Homo sapiens: one gene and its partners. The protein of the gene in region 6 purifies or fractionates together with the protein of the main gene of each other region. This does not show direct contact. Each region holds a gene or a part of one and is shown on either strand. Other genes may lie near its edges.

Region 1 (3,500 bases), on a different chromosome or scaffold from region 6:
GCACAGCTCCTGCAGCCCACGCTGGAGATCAACCCCAGGTGAGGCCACGCTCCTGGCTCTTCCAGCCTGTGGGATTCCCCAGAATCCTGTGTGTGGTGTTCTTTTGTTGTGGAATGTGACACAGAAGAAAAGTGCGTGAGGCCTGTGGACATGTGGGTAACTATAAGGAGCTGTATGCAGTTTAGGCTGCACCCATGTGAAATGGAACCTGGCCAGCCCCTTACCATCCCCAGGTGTCACCTGGGAGGTTAGCCACATCCCAGCCTGTGACCATGTCCTCGTTTTGCTTTATGGCTTTGCCACCTGTGCGTGTCCTGGACATGCTCAGTTTTGCCTGTTTTGAGCTTTGTACGTGGATCTTGGTGTTTGCTGAAGTCTCACGTTGCTCACTTGGCATGAGGGTTGCCCATGCAGAGGGGCTGCCACAAGTTCATTTTCATAGCCGAATAATGTCCGCTGCAGAAACCCACCTCGGCACAGCAGACTGCTCCGTTCTGCTCTGCTGGGCCTCCGGTGGTTCTTGGTCAGAAGTTGTGGAGAGCCAGGCTGCTCTGAGTATTCTTGTCCACGTGTCTGGGGCTTGTGTGGGTTTCTCTGTGGCCCCGGTGGTGGGAGCTGCTTCCAGGGTGCACCGAGAACCCCCCAGCCCTGACAGTGGCTGAGCCGTAAGATTTCCCTCGTTTCTTCCTGTTGTTCTTTATATGCCCTTTATCTGTTGTAAATGTCTTTTCACCTGCCTTTAGGTATCTTTTGAGTTTCTTTCTTTTTACAGTATCACTTCTTTGCACCCATGAATGTGATCTATTTAGGTCTTTAACATCCTTTGGTACCTTACATTCTCTGTAGGGTTCTGGTACCATTTTTAAAGAATTATTCTTTGATGTGTCTTATGGGGTATTTTAAAATTTCATTTTCTAACTTGTATATGAACTAACTTGTATATGAAGTTTCTTTTTTGGGGGAAATTTTGAATGTAGCAATTTTTTAAAAAATGAAGTTACATAAACATGTTACCAAAAATAGAAAACAGCAAAAAGGAAATCAAAATCCATAGACTTACCACCCCCCCCACAATGTAGCCTAAGTAGTATTTTAATTTTTGAGACAGGGTCTCACTCTGTCCCCCAGGTTGGAGTGCAGTGGGGCAATCTCAGCTCACTGCAACTTCTACCTCCTGGCCTCAAACAATCCACCTGCCTTAGCCTCCCGAAGTGCTGGGATTACAAGTGTGGGCTACCACCCCCAGCCAGTTTTTGTTTTGTTCTTTAGTACATGTCTAGTTTTTTTCTTTTGTCATTTTACAACCATAACTTTTAAAATTATACTGGAGGCGAGGGAGATGCATCTTCCTAGCCATGGCACTCCTGGGGAAAGGCTGACTTGGCTTATGGCTGTCAGTGCACAGCAGCGCCAGTATGCAGAATGCCTGTGCCTCTGCTGGAGCAGCTCAGTGAGGCGGACACCAGGTCACTTTAACTAGTTTTGGTGGCAAACTAGTTTTGTGAGATAGCTGCAGAAGTGCTCGTTTCTGTCTGTTGCCACTTCACTTTTGGAGACAGGGTCTTGCTCTGTCACCTAGGCTGGAGTGTACCAGTGGCGCCATCAGAGCTCACTGCAGCCTTGGCCTCCCAAAGTGGTGGGATTACAGGCGAGAGCCACTGTGCCCAGCCAGCTTCACTTTCATTTGTTTTAAAATTTGGTGTTCTGTCCACATAGTTCAGAATTCAAAACTGCTTACAGGGGAAAATTTCCTCCTACCTGTGTCCCCAGTGCAGCCAGCATTAGGGCTTTTGTATTTCTGCAGAGATTATGTGCATTTGTGGGCAGCTGCGCCCGTGGGCTTCCAAGGGGGAACTTGCTGTGCAGTGGGTCCTTGCCTTGCTTTTCTCCCTTAGGGTAACTAGGTGACCTCCACATTAGCATATTAAGAATGTCCTTTTTTTCCAGCTACGTAGACTAGAAATGTGAGGATGTGCATTTGAAGTGTTTCCTCTGTTAGGTTGGGTGCGGTGCCTCACGCCTGTAATCCCAACATTTTGGGAGGCCTAGGCGGGTGGATCACTTGAGGTCAGGAGTTCGAGACCTCATCTCTACTAAAAATACAAAAACTAGCTGGGGGTGGTGGTGGGTGCCTGTAATCCCAGTTACTTGGGAGGCTGAGGCAAGAGAACCTCTTGAAACCAGGAGGCTGCGGTGAGCCAAGATCATGCCATTTCACTCTAGCTTGGGTGAAGGAGTGAGAGTCTATCTATCTATCTATCTATCTATCTATCTAAAAAAAAAAGTGTTTAAAGGGATGCAGTTAGGAAATGGAATGGCTGAGTCTCAGCATATCATCCACATGTGGTTTTCCCGACTCCAGTTGTCCTCTGGAGAGGTTGTACAAATTTACAGTTCCCCAGAGCCCTCGGTTTTATCAGACTTCTAAGTGAAAAATTATAATATTCATGTTAAGGTTAAATACTACATGATGCTTTTTCCTATGCAGAAAAAAATATTGTTCTGACGTCAAATATGTCAATCATTCTTTACTTTTTGGTTTGTGGTTTTGCTTGGAAAGGCTTTCCCCTTCTGAGATGATGAAACATTTCTTCCCTAGAATTGTGCTTGTCATCTTTGATCCCTCTGGAATTTACTCTGGTCTAAATGGTTTTCTGCATGGCTCCCAGTCATCCCAGTGCTGCTGGATGGAGTGATCTGTCTCCTCCCTCTTCTGTGAAATACTGTCCTCATCAGACACTCAGTGTCCACCCTCGTTACATGGAGTTGTTTGCCTTCCCCCTTTCCAGACCTAAACTGTTTTATTTACTAGAGCCCTATAATATGTTTCAACATGTGGGTCTTACTCCCTTCTCTTTTATTATTTATCTAGGAACCAAGGCATGTCTTCACGTACTAAGCTCCTTTTGTCCCTTTAGTGTATATTAATCTTGGAGTTTGGCTACCTTACAGCATTTTCTAATACTGACACTCCTGATTCTCTTGGGTTTTCTGGGTATATAATGATATTATCTATAAATGATCATTAACATACCTTATTTAAAAAACTACAGACAGTCTTACTGTGCTTCTTTAAATATCCTGATAATCCCAAAACATGAAGGGAGGGTCACAGCACGTGGTACTGAGCTGCTTTTTCTGGTGGGTTCTGTGTTGCAGGCACGCGCTCATCAAGAAGCTGAATCAGCTGCGCGCAAGCGAGCCTGGCCTGGCTCAGCTGCTGGTGGATCAGGTGAGTGCAGCAGCTTAGGATGACTGCAGGGACCCAGGCTACCAGCCCTGCCAGCCTGCCTTCAGGGTGGAACAGCGGTTTCCTCTAAAATCCTGTCTTTTTGTTTGTTTGTTTGTTTTTTGAGATGGAGTGTTGCTCTGTTGCCAGGCTGGAGTGCAGTGGCGCGATCTTGGCTCACTACAACCTCTGCCTCCCGGGTTCAAGCAATTCCCCTGCCTCAGCCTCCCGAGTAGCTGGGACTACAGGCATGCGCCTGGCTAATTTTGTA
Region 2 (3,500 bases), on a different chromosome or scaffold from region 6:
TGTCTGGGAATCCTTAATTCACATTCTGATATTTAAAAAAAATAATACATGGTGTTAAAACACCAGGAGAACAATTTGATATAAAAATAAAAGCATTTCTTTCTACATTTTAGCATGGAAATAACCAGCCTGCAAGAACTGGCACACTGTCGAGAACAAATCCTCCTACTCAGAAACCGCCAAGTCCTCCCATGTCAGGCCGGGGAACACTGGGGTAAGAATTCAACTACATTTTGCAAAAGAATTCATATGCTAAAGGAAAAGATGTTTCTGTGACTTAAGTAAGTGTATGGGATCCATGCCACACTACCCTCTCTATGTGACGCTACCTTTTACAAATTCATTTTAATTCCTATTTTCCTGAACAGAATCCCAAATGAATCTGCCAGCTTTGTAATATTCTCTATAATCTGTACTAGGAAAGTTTTTATGTATGTATAAATGGCATGATTTATTTTTTTGTCATCTAATTTTTAAAAAATATAAATCTGACTTGTTTGTTTTAAATGGAATGATTAGAGTATTCCAAATGGTGCCTTTGCATGTGTTTACAGTATCTATATTGTAGAACTTTGACTAGTGGTCTACTTTTGTGTAGTATGGCTTAGTCCACAGCTCTTCTGTTTCGCCTATTGGTGTCTGAGACTTAGGGACTCTTTACTTTAGGAAAGTATGCACTTTACTTGTAACTATGCTTCTGCTGGTAATCTTAGGCCTCTTCACACTAGAGTAGCTCCATGGGAAGGCCAGTTGGGCAAGTAGAAAAGATAACAGTGGCTTCTTCCTTCCTAGTTCTCAGTGTACTAAATATAGCGAATACTTGTCAAAGCATTATATTTCTTTAAGGTTGTTTTTCTTAATACTGGAAATATTATATTGGATTTCTTATTTTTTGGCAGAGGGGTTGTTCAACAATCAGTCTTCTTTTAAGAAGGTCTTAGTTTTCATTTTTATTCATTAAACCCTCTGCCCCTGAAAAAAAAAATGAAGTTATTAAACAGAATAGTCGAAATCATTTATTGAGAAAGTAATGATTAGAATGTATATCTCCATTTATTGCCATATTGAGATGGGAATAAATTGCAGCTTCCTATGTAAATAAATTTAGCTTCCTGTTTAAAGAACAGTGGCTTATGGGTGACTGTACTGAGAAAAATGTACATTTTAAAGTTTGCTATTATTGAGCATTTAAAAAATTATAACCATAATTTTTAGAAATAAGGTTAGGACTTTAAATTACCCTTTCCTATGTTTTTCCTAGGAAAAGGTAACAAATTTTAGTTTTCATGTTAAAGTAACAAAATTCATATATCCCAGTGAAGAATATTTTTTAAAATTACAAACTTTGTCATATATATTTTTAAATCCTGGTATACATGGTCACAAAGGGAGACTCACATATTTTTGGGAAAAATACAATTTTATCTTTTTTATTCATTATTCCTTTCTCCACTATGCTCCTTTAGACGGAATACTCCTTATAAAACCCTGGAACCTGTTAAACCCCCAACAGTTCCTAATGACTATATGACCAGTCCTGCTAGGCTTGGAAGTCAGCATAGTCCAGGCAGGACAGCATCTTTAAATCAGAGACCAAGGACACACAGGTAAGCCTTTAGGTTGAGTATCTCAACATCTCTAAAGTGGGTGTAACTGACTGGCGACAAACTCCTATGGAGGTGCTGAGTAAAGGTGAGGTGCCACTCTAATGCTAATATAAAATGTAAAAGTTGGGGGAATAATATTATATATGTTCCTGTAAGTTTGTGTTATAACTTCTGTTTTGTTTTGTTTTTTTAACTTTTTAAAACATCTATTTGTACTATTAATGGATTGTTTGTATTTCCTCCTTTTGATAGAGGTACAGACTCTATCAGACTCTACGGGTTAAGACTAAAGAATTTTTTTCTTTTTTTTTTTGTGACGGAGTTTTGCTCTCGTTGCCCAGGCTGGAGTGTAGTGGTGCGATCTCGGCTCACTGCAACCTCTGCCTCCCAGGTTCAAGCGATTTTCCTGCCTCAGCCTCCCAAGTAGCTGGGATTACAGGCCTGAGCCACCACGCCTGGCTAATTTTGAGTTGAGACGGGGTTTCTGCATGTTGGTCAGGCTGGTTTCCAACTCCCAACCTCAGGTGATCCTCCTGCCTCGGCCTCCCAAAGTGCTGGGATTACAGGTGTGAGCCACTGTGCCCAGCCCTAAGAATGTTTTAAAATGCTCTTTTAAAAAAATTCAAGGCAAACCACTCAAATACTTTTGGAGAAAAGATTAAATATCATAGGAATTATACAACGTGATTTAAACTTTCAGAGATTGAAGGAAAGAAGATTAAGCTTAAATCTGAGGGAGATTTTTTTAAGAGAATCAGTATACTAGAATATGTTGTTATAATAATAATATTATTATTATCTTTTTGGAGATGGAGTCTAGCTCTGTCACCCAGGCTGGAGTGCAGTGACGCGATCTCGGCTCACTGCAACTTCTACCACCCAGGCTTAAGCAATTCTCCTGCCTCAGCTTCCAGAGTAGCTGGGATTACAGGTGCATGCCACCACGCCTGGCTAATTTTTGTATTTTAGTAGAGATGAGGTTTCACCATGTTGCCCAGGCTGGTCTCTAACTCCTGACCTCAGGTGATCCACCCACCTCGGCCTCCCAAAGTGTTGGGATTACAGGCATGATCCACCGCTCCTGGCCTTGTATTTATTATTTTTAAATGTCCTAAAAGTCAATTACCCGGTGGGTTTTTAAAAATTTAGTTACAGAGCATAACAAGCATTCAGAAAAGTATCCACTTCAGTAAGTATACAGCTTGATGAATGGACACACACTCATATAACCATCACCCAGATCAGAAAATGGAACATTACCAGCAACCCAGAAGCCCCTCATGCTCCTTCCTGGTTATCGCCTCGACCTTCTTCCCCCAAAATATAGCCACTTCAATTTTTGAGTGCTTTATAAAACCAGATAAATTTATTATATAACCAAATTTGTTTTATTCTTCAGTTTTCTCTCTCACTTAATAACGTGGGCAGGGAACCTCTCTTTTGCCTTCACTCTTAGGTTGGTAAATGAGAGATAACTTATCAAAATGATTTATGGGAATTCCACTAAATAGGGTATATCAAGATGCGAGATGCTAGGTAAGCGGTATTTATTACTATTGGTGCTGTTAGTAAACAAATTGTTAAGTTGATATCTGCAGTTACTGTATCAGGTCAAGTTCTTTGAGGAACAAAATTGTTCTCTTTGTTGTTATTGAACTCTTGGATCAAAGTATAGTTTTTCTCTATAGTGGAAGCATAGTTTAATCATATTCAACAAGCAGTTATTAAGTGTTGTTTCATTAGATACTAGGCATTTGTCAATAGGGCATAGTTCTTTTTTCAAGAGCTCATTCTGTTAGAACAGGGATCAGCAAACTTTTTCTATAAAGGGCCAGATTGTCAATATTTTAGGATTCGTGGGCCATATATATGGTTTCTGATGCAATTACTCAG
Region 3 (3,500 bases), on a different chromosome or scaffold from region 6:
GTGACCATCCAGGGCTGGGTAATGGATTGTAGCAGGGGATCCTACTGGCCAGTCTATCCTGTCGACTTGCTTGGAGAATTCATCTAGTACCTGCAAGACAAAGGAGACTCAACAAGCCTCCCACTGTGCACTCACCAGTGGTCTCAATGACAGGGCTTCACCCCTGAGCACCTCACCCTGAATGAGGCTCCTTGGCCTTCACAGCCCAGGAAGGAGGAATGAGGGGGACATATAATGGCAACAGAGAAAATCTAGGCTAAAGTTCTTTCCAAATTTTTATCATTAAAACATATCCTAAATATTCTGAGAATCAAAAGTATGCCCAGCCCGAGATGAACCTCACTTGGGGAGTAATAAAGGTATTTGAATTTTAAACTACAGATTTCCAGAAAAAAGGGGCACTGGTCCTCTAATTTTCCAAAGCAATTTTTTAAAAAAGAGAATTAGGTCCCCTAGATTTAAGAAACCACCAGATTCCATGTGTTTGGAGGTATTTTGGTGCTCTGGGGTATAGGATGAAGCCTCTGACTTCAAAGAGTTAATATTAGTAATTAGCACCGTACGCAAAAAAATTTAAAGAATGCTTAGGTGCTAAGCTCTGTGGTGCAACTGACTGACATCAAGGTAGAGGGATGCAGCAACTGCAGGAGGCAATGGGGAGAGTGAAGGCATTCAAGAGGGAGACTCCTTGAGCAGAAGCACAGGGGGCGAGAACACAAGGCACAGCTGTCTCCGAGGGTCCCATCCCAGAGAATAGATGCTATGACTCAGTGGCCTAGACCCAGCTCACATGAGGGACAGCACCGGGGAGGAAACCCATACAGGGATGCCAAATTGTCTCTTGGGTTGCAGGGAAGGGGGCTGAAAAATGTGTTGACTTTGGACACATCATTTCATCCCTTATGTCTCAGGGACTGCCATCAACCCCTGTCCCAGTCCATAAATGTGCCCATTCATCATCCAAGTCCAGGAGAGGCAAATAAAAAACTCACCTTCTCCAGCAAGGTAAAGGCCACCCGGGATGGGTATTCATTGTCAGCAATGACCACACCTGCAAGACTATCATTCCGGACGTAGACGTGGCACAGATAGTCTAAGGAGACAAGAGATCAGACACATGGATGCTGACATGAGGGCTTCAGACTTCTTTTAATCCCCCCAAATCAAAGCATCCAATGTTAGGCCAAATGAAGCCACTCGGAAGCTCAATAGCTCTGGGCAAGTCTTGTGGAGAGGCTTAGCAGCACAGCCCAATGGGCCACACACAGGAGCTTGGCCCAACGCCTGCTTTAGGACCAGTAAATACCCAGAGGCCCAGTATGCAAAGCCAGGGCTTAAAGAAACAGCCAGTGGTGCAGAAAACACACCCTTGACAACATGGCCCCAGGAGCATTTCCAAGTGTATTCCTTAAGCTCGGGTCAGGCCAAGCTATATCTTAGGGATCTGGAGCCCTTGGGGCTCTGTGCTGCTCCCAAACTTAGGGAACCCTGGACAAGCCAAGAGGCCTCTGCTTTCTTAAAAAATCTTTTCAGAGCAGCCAAAAGACAGGAAATTACCCCCCAGGGCCTCAGTCTTCCATATTATAGCAACCTGCTGGGTTTGCTCCACTCTGGTGGGTGACTGGGAGTAGGGGGGTTAGTCTAGAAAAAGATTAGCTACTGCCAGCTAAGGCCTCCAGAGCACTGTGCTAAAATCCTCATATGATTGAAAGGTACAGTTGTACAGGTCTTCCGCAAAATATTCACAATCCACAGGATTGTTCATTTCCATCACTTTGAAAGGATTCAGAGTTGATACAGCTAACCATATCCCCAAGGAAAGAGAAATGTAAGGATTACAGCTTACAAATAAGAACCTTCTTGTCCTTAAGGATCTGACCCAGAAGATTCCAATGCTAAACAACAGAAAAACAAATAAAAGAGGAGGGAATGATGGTGAGCCCCTGAAATCAGAAAAGAGCAGAGATAAATGAGAACAAGAATGAGGAGGAGGAAGAGGACAGGGGGTTGTCACCAATGCTCTCCAGATTTTGTATACCATCCCCAATTAAGATTCAAACATGGGGTCAAAGTGCATACCCTCCAAAGAAACTGAGAACCTGGTCAGTGGAGGAATTGTCTTTAAGTAATAAACGTGGGAAGGGCAGGCACAGTTTGAAGAACAGAGCAAGAACACTGAAATATTTGTGATGCGATTTCACTTCTATGATGTTAATAGCACAGAGATCCCACATAAAGTGTATATAGTCAATCCTGCCTGTATCATAACTGACATTTATATCATCAATTCAGTAACTCTATGTCACGTGACTTGAGGTTAGCATAAGTGTGAGATGATCTTTGTCCCTACCTGATGAAACTCATGTAACTCTTTCCTGATCTGTCTGTATAACATACACATCTAAATAAATGCCTAAACCTGAATTATCAGAAAGAAAAAATAGTTTTTTCAGATTCCTGATCAAAAAATCTACGATGCACAGAATACATATAGTACCTCAACAGTGCTAGCTGGAAATCCTTTTTTGAGGGGTCTGCAACTCTGAAGAGGATAGGGAAGAATACGATATGAAGGCTGCTTACTGCTCCAAAAGAGTCAGACCCTAATCTTAAATGAGTCTAAGTTTGAGGGCAATTTTATCTGGGAAGCTCAGACTTCAACAGTGGGCACAGAATTCTGCATAAATAGGAAAAGGAAGAGGTGGGAAAGAGAGAACAAGCTAGAGGAGGAGTAGGGTCCCAGTAGAAAGGAGAAAGCTGGGTGCTATGTGAGGTGAGGCATGGCAGCCAGGCCAGCACACGCACAGAAGTTGGAGGGTCTTCTTACCTTGTTCTTTGACAGAAGCTCTAGTGCCTTTCGATGAGCGCTCCACAATCAGTTGACTCGTGAAGGTCATGAATTCCTGAACGCTAAGAAACACAAAATGTATTTATTGCCTACTTCTTATCACCTTGTCCCCAACACAGTGGAAAGTGACCTCTGGGCTTATACATTAAGTAGACATTGCTTCTTGGTTTCATTCCTTTCCCTCCCATCCCTAGTAACAAACACTCTATAAATGAGCACAAATACTGATAATTATGAATTATCATCACCATGAAAGCTCCATCTGTTTGCTACCTGGCTCACCAAAACAGGTGAATTTTCTGGGGGGTTTTTCCACAGGATACAGTCAATTTTACATTTTGGTGAATGCATAATTTGGAATGCAATGGAAAAACAAGAGGCAGGTCCTGCTCTCAAGGTCCCAATAACTTCCAAGAAGCAGGACATTTATAAGAACTGCACTAGAAGAATAGTGTGCAAAAACTGTCAGGCAGAAATGCACAACCATTTATGGCTGTGTCCACATGACAGACCCTCGCAATGCCACATACACCCATAGTGAGTGCTGGCTCAGGTCTGCTGGGGCTCGTCCACAGAACGAGCGCAAGACACTCTGGATGGAACAAAAGGAAAACTGCTCATCCAAGACAAAGAAGTGGGAAATGGCTCATAC
Region 4 (3,456 bases), on a different chromosome or scaffold from region 6:
CTCTGCTGCCCCGTCTCTGCCACTGCATCGCACTTTTCTTTTCTTTTTTCTTTTTTTTTTTTTTTGAGACAGGGTCTCACTCTCTTGCCCAGGCTGGAATGCAGTGGTGCAATTATAGCTCACTGCAACCTCTGCCTCCGAGGTTCAAGTAATCCTCCTATCTCAGCCTTTTGAATAGCTGGGACCACAGGTACATGCCACCACGCCTATTTTTTGCAGAGACAGGGTTTTGCGAAGTTGGCCAGGCTAGTCTCGAACTCCTGGGCACAAACAATCCACCCGCCTTGGCCTCCCAAAGTGCTGGGATGACAGGCGTGAGCCACCACACCTGGTCTGCATCCCATATTTGACTCAGAGCTCACTGGCCTTGTTTCTCTGGAGGACACAGGGCGCCCCCTCCCGCCGGACAGGAGAGGCTCCTTGCAGAGGCTGATTCCCATTCTTGAGCTAGGAAGTGGCCGTTCTGAACATCGGATACAGCCACACGGAGAGAGCCCACGTTCTCTTTGATAATACTGTTTATTGTCCACGGACCGAGCGATTGCTCAAGAATGATACAAAGCATCAGAGACATGCGCAGTCTGCTTGTCAACTTTCAACAACTCTTGTGTGTTCCCAGCACCGGAAGGTCTCAGACTTCATATTCCAGCATAAACACAGTGCTCCCCTCCCCCAAAAATCCAAACGGAAACAAAATCAACAGAGCTTTAAATTACGGCAGCAAGTCCAATATTTCTTAATACTTATCAAGCAAAGATTTGAAAATAACTACAATGTAAACTTTATTTTAAATATTTTGAGTTGCTTGCAGGATGAAAATAGGAGAAGAGAGCTGTGCTTAGAACATAACATATAAATTAAACGATGCCAAATGGAGAGCCTTCTTAAACTATATATATATTGCCACTATTTATTGTGAAGGTATTTGAGCGGCTTCCTCTGTCAGCTGCCACCCGGCTCTTCTTAACCTGTTTTGTTTTCTGCTCAGCACGGTTAAAAGACCAACGTGTGTGGATCAAATATAAAGGCCACACCTTTCAGACCGAACCTACTCAAAGATCCTTTACTTTGCAATAATTTGAACTGGAGAACCAAAGACGGGAGACGAATGAAAGCAAAGATGCTCAAAGAACCAAAGGAAAGACCTGAAGGAATCCACCTGCATAGGCCACGCGTTCCACTCTGGGTCAAATGCTTCCACGATGCAGAAACCTTTTTTTAAAAAAGTGCAAGTCTAATACCTACCAAGGGTAATAAAAAACACAGCACAGGAATGATTACAGCTGATGTCAAAAACAAACCAAAACATTAAAAAAACAATCAGCAGAAACAGGAGTAAATGTTACATATGATATCACCATACAGGAAGCGAACAGGGGTGGGGTGTTATATGGGTTGGAGGGGTCTGGTGGAGTTGTATATACTGAAATCACATGGACTGGTCCATTATGACATCTTACCAACTTTAGGTCACTGTACAGCATGAAAACGCCCGTGGGGCAGGGGCCGATTCCTGGATACCCTCCCAGTCTGCCCTAGAAAGGGAAGTCATCAAGATCTGTGCTGACCAGGTCCCGGTGGGCATGGGGGCTGCATGCCACTTGGGGGTCAGGAGTCTTAACAGGTGCTTTGGGGTTGCCGCTGAATAGAACAGGCTAAGGTGGCTTTGGAAGCATTTTGCAAGACCACGCCCAGGCCGCCAAGCTTCGGTTTCATTGCGTGTGTATGTTTACATAATGTGCCTGTATATCGTCAGTTTATCTTTACAACACAGGTGGGAGGAAACAAGAGATTCTCCTTATCATTACCGAGAAAGTTCTTCCTATCCTAACCCCCATATCACTGGCTTCAGGAAACCACACTGAGGGAACACATAGGTTCCCTAGTTCCCTAGGAAGTTTCTTAGCTAGGTAATCTTTGTCATTTAAGAAATACAAGCAGAAGTTGGTATATCTGCAACTCAGGTTCACCTATCATCTGAGAATTCACCTTTAGAAAAATAAGATGTCTCTTAAAACAGGCCATAGTGTCCTGGAGGCTGAGAAAGAAGTGAGTGTGTCACCAAAGCCACCTACCTCCAAAATCCTTCCCTTCCTAGGCTGGACTTCTTACTATGCTTAGCTGGCGTCACATGCAGAAAGCCCCGTGCAGAACGATGGCTGTCAGTCTTTGAGGGAGGGAACACTAAGCCTGGGAGGGCACAGCAAGACCCAGCTTTTTCTGTCCTCAGGATGTGCAGATGGGGAGCCCAGCCGGGCCCTGCACACAAGCCCGGATAAAGCAAAGCTGTGCAACTCAATCCAGGTGCCTGATGCCAGAACAGGCAAGAAGCAATGGCAACCGCAGCAGCTAGGGAAGGGACCTTGAGGGCAGCCACCGGCCCCGGACAGCAGCCTCAGGACAGGACCTCACCGATTCCTCCTGCAAGCTGGGGAGCATGTGGGCGGGGGGGGGGGGGTGGGGGGGTGGGTGCAGACCAAAAAGACTCAGCTGAGGCTGGAACGCAGCTCAGCTGGGGTTTCTCGCTCCCATTTCTACAAGGCTCAGAGGGAGGCTCCCACTGGAATTCTGAGGATTAATAGGATTGATGGGGCTCCTTCAAGAACTAGCCACTGGTTCCAGGCTGCCCTTGGATGTGGGGGGAGTCAGGTGCTGGGAGCTCATGGTGGGCACCGGGGCGATGGGAGCACTTGCCAGGGGCAGGGAGTGCAGAGGCGTGGAAGCTGCAGAAAACAAGGGCCATGTCCCTCTCAAGATGAAAGGGACCTGGTAGGCCTGCTACACAGTCTTGCAACGACCCTCAAAAGTTTCTGCAAAATGCACATTTCCAGGCCCTGCCCTAACCCAGCTGGGAGATCCCTAAGTGCTGCCTGCTTGGCATCTGTGACGGTGCCAAGGCAGGGACTGGGAGGGAAGCCGCGTGTCCCAGCCCTGCCTGCACCCAAGGATCGAAGCCCCAGACACATAGTGCCTGGCAGAGGGAGGATGGGATGAGGACCTTGGACCCACGTCTCCCTCCAGACCCACAACCATGTCTAAAAGGAGAAGGGGGGAGCAGAATCATATTAATTTGGACCCATGGGATGAGTGTTTTATTCATGCTGTTTCCAGGAAGGGATGTCAGAGCTGGACCAGTCGAAACCCTTGGAGGCTTTTTTTGCAGTTGGCCACAGGGGCGTTGGAGGCCTGCTTATGGGTCCTCGATGTCGAGAAACTCCTGCTTGGGGGGCGCCGCGCCGCGGTACCACGCACAGGAGCCGTCACTTCTCTTGATGCAGGCGAAGAACTTGGCCTGGTGCCCGTTGATGTTCTTCTCTGTGACCCAGTCCATCCAGAGGCACTCGTCCGGGGAGGAGATGTAGCACGGGATCATGGGGCAGCGCGTGATCTGGGGAGGGGCACACGGAGGGGGACGGAGTCAGGGACCCAGGAAGGGGTGGGCAGAGGCTGCTCTGG
Region 5 (3,500 bases), on a different chromosome or scaffold from region 6:
TACAGAAAAGGTGTAACCTGGCTCTTAGGACTTTAAGCCACATTATGGTAGTAGACCTGCCGTTTTATTTGACATGGTGAAATAAACTACCACTCCTTTGTGGTACCATATGGGCAGGACAGAGCTCTTCAACCCTGGCTAACAAGCCTGAAGAAGACCCTGTGAGGCCGCAGCAGCCATGGGAACTTCCCAAAGGACAGAAATCCACATGCTAACGTAGCATCCAGATAGGTGACAGAAATTCCTTCCACCATATCCAAATGTGTCCTGTTTTGGGGATTTATGTTAGGAAGAAGTTAAAATGTAAAGTATTTGATGAACATCTGATTTATTTCTTTTTAGAATAAGTCGAAACATTAATTCAGTGGGGAAGATGGTGGGAGGTGTGTTAGTTTCCTGTGGCTGCCATAACAAATTAGTATACACTTGGTGGCCTAAAACAACAGAAACATATTTTCTTATAGTTCTGGCGACCAGAAGTCAGAAGTCAAGGTGTCAGCGGGGCTGTGCTCCTTCTGAGGGCTCTAGGGGAGGAGTCCTCCTTGCTCCTTCTAGTCTCTGGTAGCTCGGGGCTCCTTGGCTGGTGGCTCCATGATGCCCCTGCCTCTGTCTTCATATGATGCCCCTGCCTCTGTATGTATCTGTGGCTTCTCCCTTTCTGTCTAAGGACAGTTGCCACTGTTGGATTTAGGCCCCATCTAGGTAATCCAGAAAGATCTTAAGGTTTTTAACTTAATTACATCTGCAAAGACCCCCTTTCTTTTTCTTTTTTCCCTTGAGATGGAGTCTCACTCTATTGCCCAGGAAATAGTGTAGTGGCACAGTCATAGCTCATTGCAGGCTCAACCTCCTGGGTTCAGGCGATCTCCCACCTCTGCCTCCCAAAGTGCTGGGATTACAGGCATGAGCCACTGTGCCTGGCCCAAAGATCCTTTTTTTGAATAAAATCACCATTCACAGGTTCTGGGGATTAGGAATTTGACATATCTTGTTAGGGACCACCATGCAACCCACTGAAGTGATGTGTATATTTATGTATTTAAGGAGAGGCAAGACAAAGAGAAGTGACCTTTTTTTTTTCCCACTCCAAGTTTTCATTATTTGTCGAGCTATTCCCAATGTCCCTCTCTGGTGACTCTCCACTGAAGATAGTTTTCAACTTTTTCTTTACATATAATTGAAAAAAAAAAAAAGAAACTTAGTAGTCATTGCTTTGACCTTCAACACTGGTTGTCAGGTTACAGTGATTATAGGTTTAGACTAAGCCATGGGCCCCTCAGTCCCCCTGAACTCCTGTGTTTATGTAGTAATCCCCCTCTCTCGTGTGTGTGTGTATATGTGTGTGTCTTTTCTTCTAGGAAAGTCAATACTCCCAGTTATTTACCTATGAGCAATTCTAAGAATTCTGATTCCTCTCTAGGTTGAGTAACACAGACTGCATCTTGTGGGCTGACATAACGCACATATGTGCTTTGACTTCTCTTGTAACCAAGAGCTGTTCAACACTGACAGGCGGCACTGTAACCCAAAGAGTACTTTACTGGTAGATTTCCTAGTTTTTCCATGACCCTGGCTGAGCAAATGTTCTTTAGATTTGACCTAGAAAACCCTTCTTGTGTGTTTTGTAACCTCACAAGCCACTGCTAATGTACCTTCTTCACTTGGGCCACCCACCGTGATTTCTGTCCTGGATTCCCTGAGCCAAATACCCATGATGGGATGGTTCAGTGATGTGGATGGATGGCTATTTGTGTAAGGGCCGAAAACTAGTTTTCTAAGATGGGAGAGCTGGGCAGTTACTTATACTCTGAAGCCCTTCTCTTTCTCTGCTGGGGCTTTCCCAGCAGTTCCTAATAGTTCCTTGTATTTCAGATAAGTCATCATGATTGTTAGGAAAAAAAGAAAAAGTTAGTTTTTAGCCTCCTGACTTCTTAAGTCAAGTGAGACTTTTAAAATTTAGTAAATAATAGCTCATTATTTTTATGGTAGCTATTTGATTATTTTAATTCTTTAGCAGCACTGAAGAAATTCAGAGAAGTTCAATAGAGAGTAATAGCTATAAAGGGAAGAAGGGTGATTTGTCAAACTTCAGAATCAACTTTAAATGTAAAAACAAAAAGATCATTCCACCAACTCAGGCCACCTTGTTGAGTGAAGAGAGAAAACATTTACAGAACACCTGGAAAGACCTTCGGGCCTGGAGCTGAGAAATACGTGGAAGCCTCACTAGAATGAGTTCTTTATTGGTTCGGTGGACAGCCAGGTTACTAAGGAGCACTTTTTGTTAAATAAGTGACCAAAATCCCCTTGGGCCATCTCCTAAAATGATCTTTATCATAATAGCTACAGTAAAAAGAAAGAAGGAGAGGTATTAATGTGGGTGGAAATCAGGACAGTTTCCTAATGCCGTGGCTTACAATTCTGAGATTTCTCCAGGCATCAGGACATGTGCGCGCACAGGACTTGGCTCTCTTAGGAGATACTTCAGTTTGTATCAGATGTGGCTGTGGAGGGTGCTCTTTAAGCATTGCTAACTATGAGTGGGTCCCTCTCAGAAGAAAGGACTGTAAGAGGTATGAAACTTCTGAGAAAACGAGCTGTCTTCTCTTACCAAGCGCCTGCAGCCGTCAAAATGCTGTAGGCTTTAGTCGTCTGCCAGTTCCCAAGCTGAGCTGTCTCCTTCATGGATAGGATTTGTTTGTTTAGAAACAACAACAAAGTTCATTCTGTTTATAACTCAGAGCATTTGTTTTTTCTGCTGAGGCTAAAATACTTGTTTATTCTTTCCTAGAGGAGAAAAGAAAAGAGAACAATTAAAAACAAGAAAAACAAAACTAGATATTCTAAATTTCACAAGCGTTTTTCAAAAAGAGACGAGGCCATATTTTTCCTTAAAGAAAATTACTTTTTTTTTTGAGAGAACAGGATCTCACTCTGTCACCCTGGCTGGAATGCAGTGACATGATCACAGCTCACTGCAGCCTCACCCTACCATGCTAAAGTGATCCTCCCACCTCAGCCTTCCAAGTAGCAGCTGGTACCATAGGTGCACACCACCATGCCTGGCTAATTTTTTATTTTTTTTAGAGACAGGAGGTCTCACCATATTGCCCAGGCTGGTCTCGAACCCCTAGGCTCAAGTGATCCTCCTGCTTCAGCCCACCCAAAGAGTTGGGATTACAGGCATGAGACACCATGCTTGGCCGAAAATCATTATTAATTAAAAATGTCAGAGCAACCTTTTATCTAGACGTTGATCTTATCTACGCTACAACTGTCATCTTGTGAGGGACATGGGAAATGGGAAAAGGGAGAGGGGAGGACCTTTGTTAGTGTCTCTCTGGTGATATAATGGGGAAACTAAGGCTAGGCATGGTAAAGATCCTGTCTTTAAAAAAAAACAAAAAAAAAACTGGAAACTGAATTGCCAAGTGGTTCTGTGGCTTGTTAGAAGGCCGCAGGTGAGACTTTGCTGCCTTTCTCCTGACTTGTAACGTTGT
Region 6 (3,500 bases):
TCCACACAGTCTTACCATTGGTAAAGCAAATCTCACCATTTGCTTTATCATTTATTCTCTCTCCCTTTATCCCCTCTCTCCTCTGTGTGTGTGTGTGTGTGTGTATGTGTGTGTATTATATTTCCGTTTTTCTGAGCTCTTTGAGGGTAAATTACAGGCATAATGCTCTTTACCTTTAACTTTTTTTGAGATGGAGTCTTGCTCTGTCGCCCAGGCTGGGGTGCAGTGGTGCAGTGGCACGTTCTCAGCTCACTGCAAGCTCCGCCTCTCGGGTTCACGCCATTGTCCTGCCTCAGCCTCCCAAGTAACTGGGACTACAGGCGCCCACCACCACGCCCAGCTAATTTTTTGTATTTTTAGTAGAGATGGGGTTTTACTGTGTTAGCCAGGATGGTCTCGATCTCCTGACCTCGTGATCCGCCTCGGCCTCCCAAAGTGCTGGGATTACAGGTGTGAGCCACTGTGCCCGGCCAATGCTCTTTACCTTTAAAAATAAGGACATTCTCTTACATACCCATAGTACAATTTTTGAAATCTGGAAGTCAGCATTGATATAACACTATTAGCCAATTTATAGACCTTATTCAGATTTCATCAATTATTCTGATAATATTCCTTATAGGAAAAGAAAATAGTAGATTGTGAGTTTTATTTGATTGTCATGTCTTTTTAGTTTCCTTTAAAGAATGACTGAGAAATGGTTCCTTATTCTTTTATGACCTTGAAAACCTTGAAAATTTTTACGAATATGGGCCATTTATTTTGTATAATGTCCCTCAATTTGGGTTTGTTTGATGTTTCCTCATAATTCAATATAGGTTATGCATTTTTGCCTGGCATATCCCAGAAATGAAGTATCTTAGCAGAGGCATTTGATGTCAGTGTGTCCCATAATTGTGGTGTTAACTTTGATCATCTGATTAAGGTAGTGTTGACCCAGTTTTTCCACTGGAGAACTTTTTTCTGAACTCCATTGTAAAATTACTATTTTTCCTTTTGTGATTAATAATTATCTGGGGCAAACCCTTTGAGATTATGTAAATATCCTGTTTATTTTTCAAATGTTAGTCCACTAGTTTTAGCTTCCATTTATGATTTTTACCTGAATCAATCAGTTATTATTGAGATGGCTGCCCAAAGGCTGATTTTCTTAATTTTTTCTATGTGCATTCATTATGTATCTATATATTTGTTGGGAACGGTTTTCCCTATTTTTCATTTATATATGTATAGAATGATGTATTAATTTATCACTATAGATTAATGGATGGGTATTTTTATCAACCAAGATCTGGTAGTAAATGTGTTTACTGCTATTGGATCTGATTTTTTTTTTTTTTTTTTTTTTTTTGAGATGGAGTCTCGCTCTGTTACAGCCCAGGCTGGAGTGCAGTGGCATGATCTCGGATCACTGCAATCTCCCCGTCCCGGGTTCAAGCAGTTCTCTGCCTCAGCCTCCCGAGTAGCTGGGATTACAGGTGGCTGCCACCATGCCCAGCTAATTTTCTTGTATTTTTAGTAGAGATGGAGTTTCACCATCTTAGCCAGACTGGTCTTGAACTCCTGACCTCGTGATCTACCTGCCTCAGCCTCCCAAAGTGCTGGAATGTCAGGCCTGAGCCACCACGCCCAGCCTGATCTGATTATTTTTAATAATGAGAATACTGGCTGGGTGTGGTGGCTTATGTATGTCATCCCAGCACTTTGGGAGGCCGAGGTGGGCGGATCACCTGAGGTCGAGAGTTCGAGACCAGCCTGACCAACATGGAGAAACCTCATCTCTATTAAAAATACAAAATTAGCCTTTGTATTTTTGTATTTGCTTATATATGCAAAGAATCTATTCCTTCCTTTTTGGAAGGAGTCACAAGAAACTAGTAATATTGGTTACCTTTACAGAGTGAAACCTGGATGGTTGGAAATGGGAGTAGGGTGGAGACTTTTCACTTATAAATCTTTTAATTTTTTTACTGAATTAATTAAAAGTTAAAAATTCACACACTGGAGGTCTAAAATTACTGAAACACATGATCTGAATGTAAGAATTCTAATCAAACAGTTTACTTAAGTAATACCTGGGCAGATAGCCAAGATAACTTGGTTATCTTGGTAGATGACAATAGTAGAAAAATTGGTAGAAAGTTGGCAACTTTATTTATATACCATGATGTGTGTACTTTAGTCTTAATGAATATTTTGTTTTCTTTTGGCAGCATGCATATGCGCTAGAACTTCTATTTGATCAGTTGCATGAAGGAGCTAAAGCTCTTGATGTAGGATCTGGAAGTGGAATCCTTACTGCATGTTTTGCACGTATGGTAAGAGTTTTATTTCTCACTCTGGCCCCAACAGAAGAATATTATATGATTTGGCTGTATGTTTTTTTAACTAGTGGTTTTCATGTTTATTTGTTTGTTAATTCTATTAGGATAGCAGTTGGAATGAGCATCACTTAGGATTTTGTTGTTGTTGCAAGTGACAGAACATGCAACCCAAACTGGCAGAGCTAAAAGGGAGTTTATTTAGTTCATATAACAGAAAAGTCTAGGGGTGTATACGGTCTGTTGTGTGGCTGGATTTAGAAGAGCAGATGTTGTTATTGACGATAGGGTTCTCTCTGTTTCTTGATTTGGCTTTACTTTCCTCCACATGTTGGTGTCATTATCCGGTAAGCTCTACCCTTGTAATCACAAGATGGTGGCCAGTAGCTCCCAAACTACCTTCTTCCAAGTTCTGATTTGGCAGAAAAGAATAGAATAAGCCTGGTTTTCTTTTCTTTTTTTTTTTTTTTTCTTCTTAAAAACAGAGGTTTTATTGCATTTGGTCCACAGTTGGTATTTCACCTTATCTCATGGTGCAGGGACCCTGGGTAGGGGACTCTCTACAGTACTTGGTGGGGCATGTGGCTGGGGGAGACAGAGCAGTATAGCTGGTCAGGCCCAGAAGGGGAGAAGGAAGGCTGGAGGCTCCTTAAAACCTACTGAGGGACCAGACGCGGTGGCTCACACCTATAATCCCAGCACTTTGGGAGGCTTAGGCAGGCAGATCACATGAGGCCAGGAGTTCGAGACCAGCCTGGCCAACGTGGTGAAACCCCATCTCTACTAAAAATAGAAAAATTAGCCAGGCATGGTGGAGCACCTGCAGTCCCAGCTATTCAGGAGGCTGAGGCAGGAAAATCCCTTGAGCCCAGGAGGTGGAGGTGCAGTAAGCCTTGATTGCACCACTGCACTCCAGCCTGGGCAACAACAACAACAACAAAAACCTACTGAGGCACAGTGTGGGGGGTGGGCTTAGCATGGAGAGGGGGTCAGGCTTAGCCCCGACAACTCAGAATTCTACTTCCTTGTACAGGCCTCAGTTTCCCCACCGGGCCCTGGGACATGTCTGAGGGTCCCAGGGAAATCCAGTCACTCAGGAGCCTGAGATATTTAGCATCGTAGCTGGGCCCCGTCTCCCAGGGGACTCATTTCCCAGCACCCTCTCCACTGTCCCTGCCC
Region 7 (3,500 bases), on a different chromosome or scaffold from region 6:
AGGTAGTGTCGTGATCTTGGCTCACTACAGTCTCCACCTCCTGGGTTCAAGTGATTATCCTGCCTCAGCCTCCCAAGTAGTGGGGATTACAGGTGTGTGCCACCGTGCCCAGCTAATTTTTATATTTTTTTAAATTTATTTTTTTGACAGAGCCTCACTTTGTTGCCCAGGCTGGAGTGCAGTGGCATGATCTCGGCTCACTGCAACCTCCACCTGTCTGTCACAAGGTTCAAGCTTGTGAGGTATTCAAGCAATTGAACCAAGTATTCAATCGCTTAAATACTTGTGAGAGGAGATAAGGTTCAAGTGATTCTCCTGCCTCAGCCTCCCAAGTAGCTGGGATTACAGGCGTGCACCACCACGCCCAGCTAATTTTTTTGTATTTTTAGTAGAGATGGGGTTTCACCATGTTGGCCAGGCTGGTCTTGAACTTCTGGCCTCAAGTGATCTGCCCACCTTGGCCTCTCAAAGTGGTGGGATTACAGGCATGAGCCACCACGCCTGGCCCAAATTTTTATATTTTTGGTAGAGATGGGGTTTCACCATGTTGGCCAGACTGGTCTTGAACTCCTGACCTCAGGTGATCCGCCTGCCTCGCTCTCCCAAAGTGCTAGGATTACAAGTGTGAGCCACCATGCCCAGCCTGTTCTAGTTTTTTAAAAAATGCAACTACTACTGATCCTATAAGCTAAAATTATGTTGTGAAAAAAGCATTTTCTAAGATAGATGAATCTCCCTTGGGAGGAAATAGAATAATTTATCTTCCCTGAGCTTTAGAATGGATAGTTTTGATTAGCCGTTGATGGTGAAATATGTTTTAATATTGAATACACCCGTAACGTTTTCTGTTTGCCTTAGCTCTGTAACGCTGAAATTAACTTTGGCTGTAGGTTTGTTACTGTAACCTGGGATCACTTTTCTCTTTCTCACATTCCGTGTGACAGTGATGATGAATATTGCATTCTTTGGGACTGACAGTCACAGTAAGTGCTTCGGCTGTGGCTCTTAGGCTTACCCAAATCAGTCCTCCTTCTGTCTGGAGAGGTGGGGTTGGGAAGTCAGAAGAGTGGAGGTCAGGAATTCAGGAAAAGGGAAAGAAGTCATTTATTTGCTTCGTTTTGCCTTTTTCCAGTGTAATTGATTTTAAGATAGAACTGAAAGAATATTCAACACACACTCTCTCTCTTTTTTTTTTTTCCTTAAACAGAACTTTATTTTCTCACAGTTCTGGAGGCTAGAAGTTCAAGATCAAGATGTCTGCAGGTTTGCTTTCTTCTGAGGCCTCCCTCCTGGCAGGCCTCTTTGCAGATGGCCACCTTCTCACTGTGTTCTCACAGGGTCTTTCTTCTGTGCCTGTCCCTCGCAGCAGTCTCTCCCGGCTCTCTTTTGAAGGAGATTGGAGTGCAGAATTGGCTAGTCTGAGGTTTCAGTGTGCAAGACGTAGTCAGATGGCTCACATTTGGAACCCTAGTAGTAATGTTTTATTCTTTGTCCGATGGCATTGGGCGGGTTGACCCAGCCTGCAGTCAGGATTTCCTTGTACCGTTCACCCGGGAGTTCAGAATCGCACTCTGGCTGAAAGTTCAGCAAGAGCACCATTGTCAGCCTGACTGCCCTGTCTTGCTGGACCAGCCAAAAGCTTAGTTACTTTCTGGCACAGTTGGAGGAAGGAGCTGGTTCTTAACAGACGTTCAATTAGGTCTTTTGGCTTTCTGTGTTCTTTCAAGCTTCTTCCTTTTCCTTTGTAAATAATGTTAGTATTGAAAGAATAGATTTTGCCAAGTGATTGTCTTGTGTCTGCTGCCCACTTGGCATGAAGGTAACTGCTGGTGAATTGGGGGAAAAAAACTAAACATTTAGAACAAGCCTGTCCAACCCACGGTCTGTGGGCCACATGTGGCCCAGGACAGCTTTGAATGCAGCCCAACACAAATTCTTAAACTTTCTTAAAACATTATGAGATTTTTTTAATGATATTTTTTAAGCTCATCAGCTATTGTTAGTGTTAGTGTATTTTATGTGTGGCCCAAGACCATTCTTCTTCTTCCTCTTAAGGCCCAGGGAAGCCAAAACATTGGACACCCCTGGCTTAGAACCTTCAGCTCTGTTCCGGTGGTACAGGACCAGTTAGGAGGCATCAGGTTCTAACCATCTGGTCATAAGGGAACAGATGCGAGGCCTGGTCACAGTAACAGCCCGTGCAGAGATCAATAGGAGGAAATCAGGAATCCACTGAGGGTCTGGGGATCTAGGTAGTGTGGGCTGCAAAGCATTTTCAGAGGTTAGTGACTCTCCTTTTGTTTCCTGCTGGGCTGTGAGCCCTGGCGGCTTGATGCATCCGTGTGTCTTGCCCACTGTGCTGCCACTGGGTGGGCGTGCTCAGGAATTGAATGGGCCTGTTGAGAAAGATATAACCAGCACTTTTGGGAAGAGTCAGCCACCCTTTTTCTTTTTGTTTTGGGCCTGTTAGAACAGTGGGTCTCAATCTGACTACATATTAGGATCATCTGGGGGGCCTTAAAAATGAAAGCTCTCACCTGACAGTGTGTAGGTCAGCCACCCAAAGGTGAGGGCTGTGCACTCGGCGCAGACCTTGACACTTAGGTCCAAAGCGCGAGTGCTCTTCGCCAAAGCTTGTCTGCCTGGGCTCTTTCCTACCTTTGGGTGGTCTGTTCACAATGACCCTTTCTCTGACCAGCTGATTGAAACCTGCCTTCTGATTGTACCTGGGTAATTGGAACAGAACCAGGAGTCATGGTTAGCTTGTAGGGCTGCCTGCATGGCTCATGAGCAGTATAACTGGTTGTTAACGGTCCCTGTCATGTGAGGTTTTGGGGGTCTGCTTCCCAGACGAGCTCACTGTGCTTGGACCTACTCTATGCAATGGATAATCGAACTAATTATTTAGATAATTAAGTGGCTGGGCACAGTGGCTCATGCCTGTAATCGCAGCATGTTGGGAGGCTGAGGTGGGCAGATCACTTAAGCCCAGGAGTTGGAGACCAGCCTAGGTAACATAGACCTTGTCTTCACAAAAAAAAAAAAAAAAAAAAAAAAAAGAAAAAAAGTTAGGGCATGGTCACATGCCTGTAGTCCTAGCTACTCTGAAGGCTGAGGCAGGAGGACCACTTGAGCCAAGGAGTTCGTGGTTATAGTGGGCTATGATCAACTACTGCACTCAAGCCTGGACAGCAGAGCAACACCCTCTCTTAAAGAAAAAAAAAGATAATTAAGCTACAAGCCACATTTATTTGAAACATTCTCCGTGGATGATCTGGGTATTTGATTTTGAATCCTTCAAGTAAATTTCTCAGTTCCTTAACGTGCATATGTAAACGATCATGAGTCATCTTTGGTTATTAAAAATAACCCAAACCACAGTGATTGAAGCCTTGACATGCTTTCTTTTTCTTGGTGAGATTTTCCTGGATTGTTAGCTCCTTCCCCCTTCCTCCCCGTACGTGCTTTCAGTGAGACGGAACAGTTCATTTCTTCCTTGA

The links.
Region 1: the proteins of PCMT1 (region 6) and TRAP1 fractionate together in Homo sapiens (co-fractionation; one large-scale study listed by BioGRID). This does not show direct contact.
Region 2: the proteins of PCMT1 (region 6) and ABI1 purify together in Homo sapiens (affinity purification with mass spectrometry; 2 studies listed by BioGRID and IntAct, with this or other methods). This does not show direct contact.
Region 3: the proteins of PCMT1 (region 6) and YKT6 fractionate together in Homo sapiens (co-fractionation; one large-scale study listed by BioGRID). This does not show direct contact.
Region 4: the proteins of PCMT1 (region 6) and TIMP2 purify together in Homo sapiens (co-immunoprecipitation; one large-scale study listed by IntAct). This does not show direct contact.
Region 5: the proteins of PCMT1 (region 6) and KLHL42 purify together in Homo sapiens (affinity purification with mass spectrometry; 3 studies listed by BioGRID and IntAct, with this or other methods). This does not show direct contact.
Region 7: the proteins of PCMT1 (region 6) and RMC1 purify together in Homo sapiens (affinity purification with mass spectrometry; 3 studies listed by BioGRID and IntAct, with this or other methods). This does not show direct contact.

The regions. Positions count from the first base shown.
Region 1 is NC_000016.10:3,658,525-3,662,024, reverse strand, and holds part of TRAP1 (heat shock protein 75 kDa, mitochondrial isoform 1 precursor), read left to right. Parts: coding exon 1-38; intron 39-3,159; coding exon 3,160-3,232; intron 3,233-3,500.
Region 2 is NC_000010.11:26,766,959-26,770,458, reverse strand, and holds part of ABI1 (abl interactor 1), read left to right. Parts: intron 1-113; coding exon 114-214; intron 215-1,466; coding exon 1,467-1,607; intron 1,608-3,500. UniProt on the Homo sapiens protein: May act in negative regulation of cell growth and transformation by interacting with nonreceptor tyrosine kinases ABL1 and/or ABL2. May play a role in regulation of EGF-induced Erk pathway activation. Involved in cytoskeletal reorganization and EGFR signaling.
Region 3 is NC_000007.14:44,203,978-44,207,477, reverse strand, and holds part of YKT6 (synaptobrevin homolog YKT6), read right to left. Parts: intron 2,911-3,500; coding exon 2,828-2,910; intron 1,094-2,827; coding exon 993-1,093; intron 91-992; coding exon 1-90. UniProt on the Homo sapiens protein: Vesicular soluble NSF attachment protein receptor (v-SNARE) mediating vesicle docking and fusion to a specific acceptor cellular compartment. Functions in endoplasmic reticulum to Golgi transport; as part of a SNARE complex composed of GOSR1, GOSR2 and STX5.
Region 4 is NC_000017.11:78,852,477-78,855,932, forward strand, and holds the end of TIMP2 (metalloproteinase inhibitor 2 precursor), read right to left. Parts: intron 3,389-3,456; coding exon 3,191-3,388; 3' UTR 501-3,190; downstream 1-500. UniProt on the Homo sapiens protein: Complexes with metalloproteinases (such as collagenases) and irreversibly inactivates them by binding to their catalytic zinc cofactor. Known to act on MMP-1, MMP-2, MMP-3, MMP-7, MMP-8, MMP-9, MMP-10, MMP-13, MMP-14, MMP-15, MMP-16 and MMP-19.
Region 5 is NC_000012.12:27,793,733-27,797,232, forward strand, and holds part of KLHL42 (kelch-like protein 42), read left to right. Parts: intron 1-3,500. UniProt on the Homo sapiens protein: Substrate-specific adapter of a BCR (BTB-CUL3-RBX1) E3 ubiquitin-protein ligase complex required for mitotic progression and cytokinesis. The BCR(KLHL42) E3 ubiquitin ligase complex mediates the ubiquitination and subsequent degradation of KATNA1.
Region 6 is NC_000006.12:149,787,741-149,791,240, forward strand, and holds part of PCMT1 (protein-L-isoaspartate(D-aspartate) O-methyltransferase), read left to right. Parts: intron 1-2,213; coding exon 2,214-2,318; intron 2,319-3,500. UniProt on the Homo sapiens protein: Initiates the repair of damaged proteins by catalyzing methyl esterification of L-isoaspartyl and D-aspartyl residues produced by spontaneous isomerization and racemization of L-aspartyl and L-asparaginyl residues in aging peptides and proteins.
Region 7 is NC_000018.10:23,520,511-23,524,010, forward strand, and holds part of RMC1 (regulator of MON1-CCZ1 complex), read left to right. Parts: intron 1-1,080; exon of another isoform or gene 1,081-2,379; coding exon of another isoform or gene 2,380-2,396; intron 2,397-3,500. UniProt on the Homo sapiens protein: Component of the CCZ1-MON1 RAB7A guanine exchange factor (GEF). Acts as a positive regulator of CCZ1-MON1A/B function necessary for endosomal/autophagic flux and efficient RAB7A localization.